2 separate regions of the Homo sapiens genome follow, and region 1 is linked to region 2. The links come from fine-mapping of genetic effects on gene expression. Tissue or cell type: whole blood. Region 2 holds a variant in brackets; the other region holds the start of a gene. All regions are shown on one strand. Distances are between the middles of the regions.

Evidence for each region. PIP is the estimated chance that this variant, and not a neighbour inherited with it, causes the effect.
Region 1: it holds the start of KLHL7-DT, and the variant in region 2 is fine-mapped to the expression of KLHL7-DT in whole blood (TOPMed, PIP 0.91).

Annotation. Positions count from the first base shown.
Region 1 is chr7:23,102,383-23,110,491 of GRCh38, forward strand. KLHL7-DT (KLHL7 divergent transcript) reads right to left here and starts at 3,321. Exons shown (of 3, transcript NR_046220.1): 1 at 3,177-3,321; 2 at 1,868-1,935; 3 at 1-1,196. It overlaps KLHL7 (kelch like family member 7), which reads left to right and starts at 3,403. Exons shown (of 11, transcript NM_001031710.3): 1 at 3,403-3,764. The coding sequence starts at 3,645. RefSeq lists enhancers at 2,591-3,577, 3,200-3,389, 3,510-3,789, 3,578-4,564, 4,270-4,349.
Region 2 is chr7:23,163,735-23,171,843 of GRCh38, forward strand. It overlaps KLHL7 (kelch like family member 7), which reads left to right. Exons shown (of 11, transcript NM_001031710.3): 8 at 1,964-2,204; 9 at 4,102-4,303. Among named protein-coding and RNA genes, the nearest start is that of NUP42, 14 kb to the right of the region's middle. The variant G/A (reference allele first, on the strand shown) is at 4,690.

The DNA.
Region 1 (8,109 bases), 61 kb before region 2:
GGGTCCTGACAAATTATGCTAAATCTGCTCTACCAGTGCTCTATAAATGGAACAACGATACCTAGCTGGCAGCACATCTGTTTACAACACAGCTTTCTGAATATTTTAAGTCCACTGTTGAGACCTACTGCTCAAAAAAAAAGGTGTCCTTTCAAAATATTACTGGTCATTGACAATGCACGTGGTCACCCAAGAGCTATAATGGTGCTATATGAGGAGATTAATCTTGTTTTCATGACTGCTAACACAATGTCTATTCTACAGCCCATGGATCAAGGAGTCATTTTGATTTTTAGGTGTTATTATTTAAAATATACATTTAATAAGGCTAGAGCTACCACAGACAGTGATTCTTCTGATGGAACTGGGCAAAGCACATAGAAAACCTTCTGGAAAAGATTCACCATTCTAGATGCCATTAAGAACATTTGTGATTAGGAGGAGGTCAAAATATCAACATTCACAGAAATTTGGAAGTTGATTCCAACCCTCACGGATGACTTTGAGAGGTTTGAAATTTCTGTGGAGAAAGTACCTGCAGATGTGGTGGAAATAGAAAAACAACTAGAATTAGAAGTGGAATTTGATGTGACTGAATTGCTGCAATCTCATGATAAAACTTGAATGGGTGAAGAGTTGCTTCTTATGGCTGAGCAAAGAAAGTGGTTGTTTGAAAAGGAATCTATTCATGGTGAAGACTCTGTAAATATTGTTGAAATGACAACAAAGGATGTGGAATAGTGCATAAACTTAGTTGACCAAGCAGAGACAAGGTTTGAGAGAATTGACTCCAATTTTGAAAGAAGTTCTACTATGGGTAAAATGCTATCAAACAGCATTGCATGATATGGAGAAATCCTTTGTGAAAGGGAGTCAATCAATGCAGCAAACTTCATTGTTGTCTTATTTTAAGAAATTGCCATAGCCATTCCCAACATTCAGAAACTACCATTCTGATCAGTCAGCAACCTGACCCTGATCAGTCAGCACCTATCAACATTGAGGCAAGACCTTCCACAAGCAAAATGACTGTGAATCTAGTGGGCATGGTGATGTGGGCCTGTAGTCCCAGCTCCTCAGGAGGCTGAAGCAGGAGGACTGCTTGACCCCGGGAGTTTGAGGCTGTAGTGTAGTATGATCACATCTGTGAATAAGCCACTGTACTCAATCCTGGAGAACACAGCAAGACTCCATCTCTTAAAAAAAAAGAAATAAAAATAAAAATAAATTTAAAACTTGCAACTTGCAAAGGCTTAGATGATCATTAGCAACTTTTTGGCAACAAAGCACTTTTTAAGGTATGTGCATTGCTTTTGCAGACATAATATTATTGCACACTTAATAGACCACAGTATAGTGTAAACATAACTTGCATATGTTTTGGGAAACCAAAAAATTTGTGTGATTCACTTTACTGCGATATTTACTTTATGTGGTGGTCTGGAACAGAACCCAAAATATCTCTGAAGTATGTGTGTATTATTAACTCAGTAAAGTAATTTTAAGTGTCTTGTGCTGGCACCCCTCTAAGCATTTTTATAAACCTTACGCCAGTTCCATGTAGTAGGTTCTACTTTCACAGATAAGGAGACTGAGGCATAACAGAAGTTAATCAATTTGCCCAAAGTTGCACAACTAGAAAGTTGAGATGTTTGACTTTGCATCCAGGCAAAGTCTCATGCTTAATCCCTGTACTATATAATCTCTGTGGCCTCTTTGAGCTCTGAATCCTATGGCTCTTCCATGAACTTTGATGTTTTATATTCAGCAATATGTAAAAAGACTGTTCTAACATCAAGGACTAAGGATGCTGTTCCTCGTTTCTTTTTTGCCTTATTACAGGACAGCATTCTTTTTCATCACTTACATTTCTGCCTTTGAATCACGGATCCTTCATCTCCCAAGGCCTTAGAGTTAGAAGACAGATTTCTACTTCTTTTCAATTAAAAAAAAAAGAAAAAAATTTATTCCGTTTTTCTTCAGTGTCCTGGGTCATTTAATAAAGTGAATGAAAAATTTTCTCATTTATAATTTTATTAACAATAAATTATTCCTATTGCCAGGGTTCACCTGAAATCCCCAAATCAACTAGTTAAAATAGAGGCACATCTGAGAACCTCTAGATTAATAGAAGAAAGATAAAGAGTACAGAGACATAAGTATCTTACTCTTTTGTAAAAATTGAGGCGTATATATAGCTTGCTCTTTCATCTGGATTATGCTATATGGTTTGTCCTCAACAAGAAAAGTATACTGTGGGCCAGGCCTGGCCGCTCATTCCTGTAATCCCAGCACTTTGGGAGGCCTAGGCGGGAGGATTGCATAACACCAGGAGTTCGAGACAAGCCTGGGCAACATAGTGTGACCTCTTCACCACCACCACCACCACCACCACCACCACCAAAAAAATTTAAAAATTAAAACTTAGCCCAGAGTGGTGTTGCACGCCTGTAGTTTCAGCTACTTGGGAGGCTGAGATGGGAGGATTGCTTGAGCCCAGGAGTGCTGAGGCTTCAGTGAGCTATGATTAGCCACTGCACCGCACCCCCAGCCTGGGCGACAGGGCCGAGACCCTGCCTCCAAAAAAAAAAAAAAAAGCCTCAATGGTGTAAATTATTTTACATAAAATGTCTCTGTATAGTCCTATATAGACCGAGGAGGAAAACCAATGAGATATAAAGTTTTCATAATGTTAAATAATGTACAATTTCAAATAATCCTGTATATTACTATACAGTAGAAAGAATATGGTTACAAAAAACATTTCCATGAGGGCTGTGATTGAGTTCCGTGTTCCCGTAAAACACTTAGAGAAGCCTAACTGAAGATTTCTAGAACCGACTGACAACTGATTTCAGTTGTAAACACACAGTAAGCCAGCCTAGTTAGGCAGACATTCATTGCACGCCAAGGAGACACCAACGGGACTGTGTGCTCTTGCGTTATGAATCCCACGAAAATAAATCTTGTGCTCCGTGTAACATGACTTTAACTTGCAGTAATATCCTTTCATCATTTAATATTTATTGAGCGCCTACCATACACCAGGCTCAGATACTGCACTGAACACCGACCCTGTCCCATGAAGCCTTACACTGATGGGAGACACCTTTGCATGTTCCACAACCCAATTATCAAAAAAAAAAAAAAAAAAAAGATAATCACGTAACCGAAACCTGGAAATCTGCCTTGGGCACACAAAAGAGCAGGCGCGACCTCGGACCAGCTCCGAGGCAAAATTCACTCAGCGCGGGACAGCGACAGGGAATCCGGCCGCACCTGTGCCTGCAGTCTCATTGCTCGGAACGGCGCGCCACTGTGACGTGTCAGGCCCCGCCCCTGACTCTCCTCATAGTGCCCCCGCCTCCTTGCGCGAAGTGCGCAGGCTCCTGGGCAGGGCTCGGGTTCTGCCCGGGGACGCAGCCCAGTTGGTAGCGTCGCTCCCTGAGCGTTTCTAAGGGGGCCGCCCGGCCTTGTCTTTCGGCAGTGGCCGAGCCACCGCCGCCTGCCGCGCGTTCCAGAGCTGGGCGCTGCAGCTGCACTGCCGATCGCCGTGTTTGGTCGATAGAATCCCCAGTGTGCCCAGAGAGTGCGACCCCTCGCCCGGCCCGGCGAGCCCCGGGCGTGAACCGAGCTGAGGGAGGATGGCAGCCTCTGGGGTGGAGAAGAGCAGCAAGAAGAAGACCGAGAAGAAACTTGCTGCTCGGGAAGAAGCTAAATTGTTGGCGGGTTTCATGGGCGTCATGAATAACATGCGGAAACAGGTACCGCCTCTGTGGGAGTGACGGACGACGGTGGGAGGTGGTCCGGGGCTCGGGCCCCTGGTTCCCGGGGTGGAACCCCGCGCCCTGTGGATCGCGCCCCTCTTTCTCTGTCCTCGCCCCTCCTTCCGTTTTCGCAGGCGAGCGATTCCGCAGTTGGTAGAGGGGCGCGTAAAACAATTCTCGAGCAAAAGTGCTTCTCGTCTGCCGAGGATGTAGCTCCCAAGTCAGACTCCTGGGGGACTCCTCAGGCTGGCTTTCGCCGTCGGGTATCGGTTGTGTAACAGCTCTGCCCTAGTTATCTCTTTGTGGGGCGAGGATCCTTCCATTGGCGAGCCGTTTTAAGGTGCCGTGAGATCTTGTGTGAAGAAACCCGTTGGCATAGCCCAAACCGAAGCCCCCAAAGGGAGGAGAGTTGCTGGCCTGACATCAGCTGCTCTTAAATAAGGATCCCCGCCCCCTCCTGTGTTCCCCGGTGGAGCTAGTTGAAGAGGAGTCCTCCTGTTCGTGCTAATTTAGAGCAGAAGCAGCCATCGATAAATACCATGCCATCTTCTAAGGGCACTGTGCGCCTCTGTTATTAAGAGGAGCTCTTTGTTCTGTCCTTGGTGTGTGGTGCATTCGTGAAATTCTGCAGCACATCGGCGAAAGGTGGGTTATGAAAAGAACGGATTTTAACGCTGGCGAAGGTGAAACAAAGAGGCTTTTTTTTTTTTTAATTCCATAACATCTACACCGATAAGCATAGAAAGTCACTTTTTCCTTTCTGTAAGCTTTATTTATAGATAATACACATCTAAGTAGATTTGTGGGAATGTTTGGGTTTTGTTGACTGGGATCCTGTTTCAAGGGGACAAAGCAGGATGTGAGTTATGTGTAACTGCAAAACCTAGTTTGCTTTGTCTGGTGGTTCTGCTGGGAATATGGGCAACAGTAGAGGAATTTAAGATTTTTATGAAGATATTAACTTCTGGTTTCTATAAGCAAACGCTGACTGCTGGGATTTTGTCTTTGTTCACCAGCTCCTGCTACAGTGCACCAGTGCAGTCTGTGGGAATGCTTTTAAATCTTTCCTGGCCTGGCCTTTGTGCTGAAGTACTGTGAATGCCTGAATTCGTTAATTTATGTAACTGACTTTCATGTATCTATTTTCAAATTCATGTTCCTTTCATGTAAACCTTTTTGTATCTACAATACCACAGACTTCAAATTGCTGGTGCATTTAGCTATTGCCTGCCTGTAATGGTAGTTGAACATAGTTAACCAGGGCTTAAACTCGTTGAAGACTCATTAGGTTCCCTCCCACTCCCTCGAATATATGTTTTCATTCGTGGATCATAGCATTGTAAAGCATTGCCTTAATCCCTAAATAGGGTGAAACTGGATTGCAGCAGCAAATATTTACTTGAGGAGCAGAGGATTATCTGAGACTGTCCGTTTAGCTCTTTGGATTTAAAAAGTGACTCACATTTCTTAGCTTTGGAGTATATTAACATCACTTATTTACCGTTACAATAGAAGTACAATTACTGAAAAATCAGGGTTCTGTTACTGAGTAGGAAGGAAAAAATGGTTACCTGGTGAACAACCAGGGGTCCCCTCCACAATGATTAACTGACCTTAATCTGCCAGGTTCTCCTGTTGTCAGTGGTTTGGCATGTGATTCAAACAGTTCTCCAATAGCACTTTTATCAACTTCATGGAATCATGCATCTTTTGCAAGATGTGCAGTTTCACTTCGCAATTGATTTACATTATGGTTATATTGTATTGTCCTGTTTAACATCATAACACAGGAAACAATTGACCGAGAATGACTGACAAGGGCAGTTGATGGGAATTGGCAGAAACAGTGGCTGGTCTGAGCCAGAGTAGGAATGTTTGAGTGAGGACCAACTTTATAAGTGCTCTTGTTCTTTAGTAAATATTTTTGTGTTATGACTACTTTTACATCCCTTTACAATCTCATTGCTTTAAGGATCAGGATAATGAGTGCCTAGATGACAAGGACCCCTCTGTAAACATCCAGAAACATTCCTTCAAGAATTTGAGAACATTGTGAGATTAGCATACCTCAGTTCCAATCCTGCTCTCTCATTATTTCATTTTGTTATTTTAGATAACATGATTTGGGTCATTCCATCTCTCTGTAGTATAGTGGCCGATTCTATACATAGAGGCAAAAGGGGATTCTGCAGAGCCAGCAGCCTCGGCTTCTTCTAAAGCCTTTTCCTACATTGTTTTTGTCATTTCTAGCCTTTTGTTTCTAAGTAAACTCTCCAGTGAAGTATGGGATACATATAAGAGGGCACAAATCATAAATGTATAGCTCAATTATTACAAAGTGCACATCCCACCAACAAGACGAGAACATGACCAGTACACCAGAGGTCCCCCCTTATGCCCTTCTCAGTCACCAACCCCACAGTAGTAACAACTATTCTAACTCTGTAACCATCGAAGTTAGAGCAGAAGCAACCATTGATAAATACCATGCCATGCCATCTTCTAAGGGCACTATGCACCCCTGTTATTAAGAGGAGCTCTTTGTTCTGTCTTTGGTGTGTGGTGCATTCATGAAAGTCTGCAGCACATCGGCAAAAAGTGGGTTTTTCCTGTGTTTGAACTTATATAAATGTAATCATATGGCATAAACTCTTGTGTTTTGTTTTCTTAAAGCCAACATTGTTTGTGAGATTCATCTGTGCTGTGTGTAGCGCTACTTCATCCTTGTGGTATATAGTATCCCATTGAATGAATATAGCACAATTTATCCATTCTATCATTATGAACATTTGGGTTATTTCTAGTTTGGAACTATTAAGACTAGTACTACTTTGAACATTTTTGTACACTTTGTACATGCCTTTTGGTATGCATATGTATGTATTAATATTTGTGTTGGGAAATACCAAACAGGAATTTTTGAGTCATAAGCTATACCACCTTCAGCTTTAAAAGATATCGTCGTGTAGTTTTCCAAAGTGATTGTACCATGTTACGCTTCTGCCAGTTGTGTGTGAGAGAGGTTTTTGCTCCGCATCCCTGCCATCACTTGATGTTGTCAGTCTTATCACTTTAGCCATTCTAACTGGGTGTATAGGAGCATCTTATTTAATTGGATTGAGTACCTTTTCATTTATTTCTTTAACTTTTTGCTTAGATTAATGTTATTACCTGATATGTAAAATAGAGGCTTTACAAGGCAGGTCTGGGTCACAGTCACTATTGCACATGCACATTGCTGTTGCCATACTCTTCTTTTGTGTTAATGAAGTCCAGGAGTCTCTTAACATTGGAGGAAGATGTTTTAAGACCTTCCTGAGTACCACCATAGTTTATAGTTTCTCCACATTAAATGAATTAAAGCATAACTGGAACTTGAAAGCTTATGTTAAAGTCCTTATTGAGAGTTATGTGAGAGAACTACAAAGCTGATTTCACAATTAGATACTGGGCAGTTAACTGGGCTCACCTTCCGGCTAAAATGACTTTGCTTCTGTATTCTCATCTGTCTGACTGTAAATTACTACATGTCATTATCTTTAGGTTCTCTTGTGAATAATCTAAACCTTCAGTGTTAAACCCTTGATATTAATAAGACTTCTTGAGCACTTATAACTGTTCCAGCCACTCTGCAGAGTGTTTTACATGCTTTGTCTCATTTAATTCTCTTAACTTTCATTGACAATTCCAGTCATCCAGACCTTCTTATTCTTTTTCCTGTACTTTACTGTTTTCTGTTTTCTTTTTCTGTCTGTCCAGCTTAGAAGCTATTGTCACTCCACTGTCTCTCCAGTGTCCCAGTTTTCTTGACCCTCTGTCCCTTTTTCATGTCCATCTGGCAAACTTGAGTATTGATGACTGATTACCTTCTTTGTGCAAGGCTCCAAGCACAGCTGGAAAATATCTCACTGGGCAACTTCTGCCAAGTAAGTGCTTGGCCACTAATTTCCACTAGACTATCAGTGCCCGTGAGCAATCTTTTTGTTTTACTATTTTCCTCCAATCTGAGTCCTTTCTCTAGATCCTCACTTTCAGCAGATCACCTTCTTTTGACACCATAGATAAATAGAAGTCATTAGTCTAGAACTGTCTACCTTTTCACTTTCTACCACCAGATCTATAAACCTATTTTGACACTTTCCCTTTTCTCTTCTTATCCTGCTACAATGGAGATGCTGCTGCTTTTTCTAAGGCCAGTACTTCTACCTAGGCTTTGGCTTCCTGGATGCTGGGCTTCTCAGAAGTATTATACTGTTGGTTATTCCATCTTTGTTGAGCATCTTTAACTTTTCTTCTTTGCTGGATTCTTGCTATTAGCACTTAAGCTTGTTTTAACCTCTCC
Region 2 (8,109 bases):
GTGTACGTGTGTATAATGAGAGATATATCAAAATTTAAGAAATCCTTCTACCCATATCTTTTCCAGGCTTTCCAATTTTCCGCATTTCACATCTCAGCACCTAAGTATAAGAACTTGCATGGAATAGATACTCAGTAAAACTTAAGTGAATTAAATCATATTTTTAGGGTAACAGCTCCCTGACCCTGCCCACACACATATACCGTCCCATCTGTGACTCTACTGTTATTTGTCCATCTTCTTGCTAACATGAGAACTGCATATTCCTCTAGATTTCCCTGTAGATTTCCCTATTGCAGGGAGCAATAAATAGCACTGCCTTCACCTGCAAGCCCAGGTTGGAACTAGTTTCATCACTAGGGTAATGCCCAACAGTCATAGCCACTGAGCTGACAAGACTGACTTCCCATCTATTCTTCCCCACCCCACCCCCCGCCAACTACATACAGTATCTAGGTACTATAATCAGCAAAAAAAAAAAAAAATTCCCATATAGCTCTCAAGTAATAAATGTCAAATAAATTAGGGGTAAGAGTGACAAGATTTGAGATTCACTGAGTTAATGCAGTTAATGAAATTGTAATTCTCTGCTACATAAACCTGATTAGATAGGTATTATGAGTAGATATGAAGAACATTTAAGAGAATGATTTAGTTTATCTTTGAGGGATTGTTCCCTGTACAATATGATCATTATTTTATCTCTTTATTTCATTCTGTGGTATACAGTTTCTCTAAGAGAACAAGTGAAAATATTTTCCCCCAGTTTTTCAAGTGTTTATTGAGTGGAATTGAAGTTTCACGAACATGTTATGTTTATCACATTGTTTTGTGTGCCCACCACTGAGTAACCTACGGGGATATTAATTAGAGAATAACATCCTAAGCTATTAAGGCTCTATTTTCCTGGTCACCTAAAAAGCAAAATGTTCATCTTTGTCAGGAGTCAAAGTATTCTACATTAGGGGCTCTTCCTTTCCTAAGAGACCATTCCTGATGTTCTGTGATACTTTAATCCAATGAATGCCTGAAACACTGGATACGATCATAGGTTATCAGTCAGATTTTCTCGAAGGAAACTCAATAATCACACATAGTGCTTTCCTTGGTGAGATTGGGAATGGTATGAATTCCTATCTGACCCTGATTATTTTCAGAAAATAGCAGGAACGCTGTAGCTTCCTATCTCAAAAAAAGAGAGGGTCCAAGATACTATAACTTTAGGGGCATCCCCCCATGCACATACATGGAAGGGCGGCACAAGCATTCTTCGATGCTATCAAACATAGTGAAGAAACAGATGCTGTGAACAGCCCTTACTGTCAAGTACTGATAGGTGTGTATTTCTAATCATTGGGGTGAAAAGTGAGTATCCAGAGTACTTAGAAGAGATTACTCAAGTATTTCCTTATAAACATCAACAGTTTTAAAGTCCAGCTGACTACATTGGCTCAACTCAATATAGAAAATTAATAAAGAAGTCCACAAAATACCTTCTGGCTTTAGACTATCAGTAGGATAATGGCAATTTGAGCTTCATATTATCCATTGATTACTTATATCACACTATATATCTGGCAGGGAAGGGATGGAGACCTTTACATTTGAAAAAGCTTTTTTAAAAAATAAAACAACTTATTTTAGAATCTTCTTGTATTGTCTTCAATAACAGAAGGAATAGAAGACAGGGTGGTGATGGTATATCCAAATATATTTAAGTTTATTTTAGAGCCAGAAAGGACCCAAAGCAGTCATGTGCCTGCCTTTTGCCCTCCGCCCCATCTAATCAACATTCTGCAGAAACCACACAAGATTAAATTGGTAATAGTCTCAAGCCAAACATTTGTATGTGTAGTCTAATAAATTAACATATTCTTATATGTTTTTTGACTGTATCTTTGCATTGTCCTTTTCAGTTATATTTTTTTCCTTACTGAAAGCTTCCCATCCTTTTCTGCTACAGGATTATAGCTGGACAGACATCCGCTGCCCCTTTGAAAAACGAAGAGATGCAGCATGCGTGTTTTGGGACAATGTAGTATACATTTTGGGAGGCTCTCAGCTTTTCCCAATAAAGCGAATGGACTGCTATAATGTAGTGAAGGATAGCTGGTATTCGAAACTGGGTCCTCCGACACCTCGAGACAGCCTTGCTGCATGTGCTGCAGAAGGCAAAATTTATACATCTGGAGGTTCAGAAGTAGGTAAGGACTTCTTAAGTATTTTGGTTTGGGGCATATGCTTTAAAGCCAAGTATCTTGGCTTTCATATTTAAATAAACAGCTGGTATTATTTGTCCAGATACTTTCTTGGTAATTTAAATATGTGTTTGTCACATTTTAGAGCTCATCTCCCTGAAGGTTTATGTCGTTGCTTTACAAACCATTAAATTACAGAACTTTAGCTTCCTAGATTAATGGCCCATTTTTTTTATCATAATGAAGCATTAGTTGACATTATCTGAATTATAGTTCTAAATTATTTGGGCTGCATAATATTATTTGTTTTAAAGATTTCAGAGTTCAACTTATAGACTCTTTAAGAACTCGTTACTATATTCAGGCTTTTAAAATTTGTATTATATTTGCTTTCTTTTTATTAGAAAAAAGAATGCTCTTTTTCATTTGTTTTATTCTTTAAGTTTTTAATGACTGTAGTGGTATTTATGCTTATTGAGCAGAATGGGATGTGGGTGTGGATATAAAAACCTTATTGGATAGTGTGTTAGTGTCCAGTAGTGCTCTTTTTCTAAATGAATAATTTTTCTAAATGAATAGGTGCAGGCTAGATACATAATAGCTTTTGTATGCTTTCATTTTCAAGTAATTTCTTTAGCTTAAATAATGGGCTAATAAAGAAAACTAGGGAGACCGTAAATGGTTATACTTTTGGTCTGCATACTTATGTTTTTACCCTCAACTATATGTCAAATGAATACAAGAAAAATCACTATTTCCTAAATGTAACCATTTCCTCTCTTTAAAAGCATTCTTCACAGACTGTTATAATGTAGAATATTTCAAATACAATAAATCCTAAAGATGATAGACGGTAACTGTTCTGTGGTACTGCAGATAACTTCATTTCTTCAGCCTTTGCTAAGTGTGTTTTTAGCTTAAGTAGTAGTTTTTTTTTAATCTACTATATACTATATATTTTCCTATAGTGTCCACCCACTGAACCTACCAAATCAGGAATGTTTAAAAAGTTAAAAATAAGTTATTTTTGGTCATGACCATTGCTTCTTCTAGTTGTTATTTTCTGATCTTTACTTTTCACAGACCTTAGTTGCAACGCAGAATTATAAAGGTGTTGTCGTTTTTAAATCATTTGATATTAGCCCAGAATGGTGGGAGATGAGAAATAGTTTGGTAACTTCTAAAATTTTTTGTCCTTGGGAAGGAAAAAAAAAAGCACTTAAACTTTAATAGTATCATTTCTAAAATTTTTTATTGAACTCCTACAGTGTGTAGAAGTTTCAAAACATGATGAATGTATGTTTTGCCTTTAAATTGTGTAATCAAAATACATCAGAAATATACATCAATATTTTGAGAATATACTCAAGCAGGGACCAGTGTGATTTCAGGATATACCACACTAACTGAGAATAGTTAGGAAATATAATTTTGTTAATGGTGCTGTAGCTATTCCAGAATATTAAATAAGAATATGATCAGATAGTAGTTTTCATATTTTAAGGTATGGGTCTACCATCTGTAAGGAACTATTATGCTTTTCCACTTTATATAAACATTTGAAGTATGGATAATTCCCGTCATGCATAATGGGGCTTGAAGACATATATAAGGCTTCTTATTTAATTTTTCTTTTGAAATCAAATTTATTTTTCTAAAGTTTAATTACCAATAAATAAGTATTTCCAACAGATCCTTTTAAGGATGTTTTCCAGGGTCTATACAAACAGGATTATTAGCGTTTTCTTAAACTATTCCTACACTTTGTTGTTGTTGATTGAGTATGAAAATGGCCGTATGACCCTAAATTCTTCCTTCCTTAACTAATAAGATCTACAGTCAGTTCTTTCCAAACCCCCGCACACACTAAAGTTAAGCATGATGGGGCCTTTTTCTTTTACAGGAAACTCAGCTCTGTATTTATTTGAGTGCTATGATACGAGAACTGAAAGCTGGCACACAAAGCCCAGCATGCTGACCCAGCGCTGCAGCCATGGGATGGTGGAAGCCAATGGCCTAATCTATGTTTGTGGTGGAAGTTTAGGAAACAATGTTTCTGGGAGAGTGCTTAATTCCTGTGAAGTTTATGATCCTGCCACAGAAACGTATGTATCTATTTAAAATTTATTTTACAGTTAACTGTATTCTATAAGCTCTGTAGGAGATGTCAAAAGACCAGAGGAACCCAACAGAAGAATTTTGTCCTTGAGTGAAGAGTGTATATAAACTTTTGAGTGTGCTAGGGTCAGTGGCATATTTATGACCTGGACCTTTCCCTTACACCAGAAATGGCTTGAACTTACACCCCATGGGAACCTCTTTCTTTCTGGTTCTGCGTGCAATAAATGCCTATGAATGAGACACATCTGATTGATTCGTCAACTCATAAAATGTTTTTGTTTGAGCGGTCAGGAAATGTAGAGGAGGAGGGGGGAGTTTATGACCAGCAATAAATTTATCCTTAAGTAGAAATATTAGATATTGGCTCATG[G/A]CATTAATAAATCATGCCTCCCTAGTTCTTTTTAGGTGTAAACTTCCTAAGTACATTTAGATTCATGTTTATTAAATAAAATTATTCTTAAATCAACTGCTTTTAAAAAGGCAAAGTGTGTCAAAAAGGTAAAATGCTAAAGAAATAACTGGTTAGCCAGTTTTTCTGACCTTGTAGTTAATGATGGAACACATTCAATGTAGCCAAAGGAAATGTGCTAATCATTGAATAATGGAGAGGGCATGAGGGCACGGGTTGTGAGTAGTGACATTAAAGCTGATGAGGACATAAAACAGATGATACCCTAGTCGTACCTTTTATGGAAACATCCAAAGAGCTTTGATAAGAAAAGTCACTTGATCATATGGCTGGATTGCCCATCGTTCTTCCCTTACTAGAACAAGTTACTGGGTGAATACGTTCACTAAAATGCTATGCCAGAGTTGCATCAAAACTCTCGTGCTTAAAGTTTTATATTTAGGAAATATTGCCAAACTACAAAACATGGAAGTCTTCAACTCCAGCTACTGCTTTTTTTAAAATTAAGAAATAAGATGCCAGGCATGGTGGCTCATGCCTATAATTCCAGCACTTTGGGAGGCTGAGGCAGGCAGATCACTTGAGGTCAGGAGTATGAGATCAGCCTGGCCAACATGGCAAAATCCCGTCTCTACTAAAAATACAAAAACTAGCTGGGTGTTGTGGCGCGTGCCTGTAATCCACTACTGGGGAGGCTGAAGCAGGAAAATTGCTTGAACCTGGGAGGCGGAGGTTGCAGTGAGCCAAGATTGTGCCACAGCACTCCGGCCTGGGTGACAGAGCAAGACTCCATCTCAAAAAAAAATAAAAAATAAAAAAATAAGAGCTTAATTATAAAATATGATTAATTATGTGCATTTATCTATGATTCCCACATATTTTTAAAAGATTTAAGGAAGCATAATCAATAACTTCTTTCCAGTGCAAATAATAGAAAAGCAAGTTGTCTTGAAATTTGTCTTTTGCTAAAGATGTTTACCAACTTTGCTCCCTTTTATGTGAACCTCTACCTTACTTCCCATAAACCCTAGGCTCAAAAAGTGTTACAGCATACTAGTTGGAAAACTGATTCATTCTGCTAATTATTTTTTATTTCTAAAAAATCTCTTAAAAGAGAAGCCATAACCATAAAAACTCTAGGTTTCTAAATTTTTACATCTTTATTCAGGCACTATCAATGTAAATTAATATTGATTTTTTACTTACTTTTTTGTTCAAAGTAAAAATATAAAGGAGTTCTGCAGCTTCTGTATTTTTTAAAACTAGGTGAATATTCAGTTTCAGGAATATTTAAAAACTTACAAGACCTAGCATTTCTTTCATTTTATATATATTGAGCTTAAATTTGAATTCTCTATGTTCCCTTCAATGCCCTTAAATTTTCACAAATGAAAAGCTAGTGTGAATATAATTATCCAACTCTCAAAATAAATGTTATATTATTTCCTTTTAAAAATGTTACCTAGTCCAGGTGTGGTGGTTCATACCTGTAATCCCAGCACTTTGGGAGGCCGAGGCTGGTGGATCGTCTAAGGTCAGGAGTTCGAGACCAGCCTGACCAACATGGTGAAACTCTGTCTCGTCTAAAAATACCAAAAAAAATTAGCCGGGCGTGGTGGCGCGTGCCTGTAATCCCAGCTATTCAGGAGGCTGAGGCAGGAGAATCATTTGAACCCGGGAGGTGGAGGTTGTAGTGAGCTGAGATCGTGCCATTGCACTGCAGCCAGGGCAACAAGAGCGAAACTCTGTCTCAAAAACAAAAACAAAAATAAAAACAAAAAGTTATCTAGCCAGCCAAGTTTTTTTTAATAAGAATTTCTTCCCAATTTTGACATTTTAAGTGTTTGATAATTAGAATGTGTTTAATTGGAAGCTGAAAAACTAAGCCTATGGACCATAGAAACACAAATAACACATGTTGTCACTCATGTGGGAGCTAAAAATGTTGATCTCATGGAGGTAGAGAGTAGAATGATGGTTATCAGAGGTTGGTTAACAAGTACAGAAATACAGTTAGATAGGATAAGTTCTAATATTCAGTAGTACAGTAGGGAGACTATAGTTAACAATAATTTATTGTATATTTCAAAATAGCTAGAGAAGAATTGGAATGTTCCCAACACAAAGAAAAGATATTCCTCAGCAGCAACATGGGAGGCCTGGGTTCCTTCCCTAGCCCAAAAAGAAACAAAAGGAAAGATAAATGTTTCAGGTGCTGGATATCCCAGTTACTCTGACTTGATCATTACACATTGTATACATGTGTCAAAATATCACAGGTACCATAAAAATATGTACATGTATTATGTATCACATTTTTAAAATCAGTTTTAAAAAAGATGGAGAGGAGCAGAAGCTCATAATAAAGTAACTGAAGAAAGAAAGAAATTATGTCTATGGAAACAATGTGACACAGTTTGAGCGGTCAGAATTTTAAGAAATGACTTTTTTTTTTTTTTTTTGTGAGACGGAGTCTCACTCTGTCACCATGCTGGAATGCAGTGGCACGATCTCAGCTCACTGCAACTTCTGCCTCCCAGGTTCAAGCGATTCTCCTGCCTCAGCCTCCTGAGTAGCTGGGATTACAGGCGCACGCCACCACACGGGCTAATTTTTGTATTTTCAGTAGAGACGGGGTTTCACCATGTTGGCCAGGATGGCCTCCATCTCTTGACCTTGTGATCTGCCCACCTTGGCCTCCCAAAGTGCTGGGATTACAGGCGAAAAAACGCTTCTAAACATTAAACTTCAGATTGCAGATAGCGGGGACCTAGTATGTACTCTGCATGTGAATTATAGGAGGAAGGGGAATTTGTGAAAGTTTTTTCTAAACCTTCAGGAGATTTAGATATACATAAAGACATGCTGTCTTTTTATATCATTAACATTATATTTGGAGAAGAAAGTGGTATGTAAATGGAATTTTTCCAAGTCAAATACTGTGTTTTAATGCATGATGATAGCTGAGTCTATAAATCTCACTACGTGCAGGGCAGTGAAGACCTAGTTTTTACTGCTGTCCCACTTCCGAGCTGTATGCCGGTCACTTCACCTGGATGAGCGTGTGTGTTTTTCCTAAAAACAGGAGCCATGCTGTCCACCTCACCTTAACAGAGAACTTTGAAAATGAGAGTGGTGACTGTCAAACCATTTTTAAAACAATACATAAATGTAAGACAAAAGAATTGTTAATACTTCAGAGTTAATCATTGTGCCTTAATTATGTTTTATAAAGTTGAATTCATCAAATTGTTTTTTGTTTTTTGAGACGGCGTCTGCCTCTGTCGCCCAGGCTGCAGTGCAGTGGCGTGATCTCAGCTCACTGCAAGCTCCGCCTCCTGGGTTCACGCCATTCTCCTGCCTCAGCCTCCTGAGTAGCTG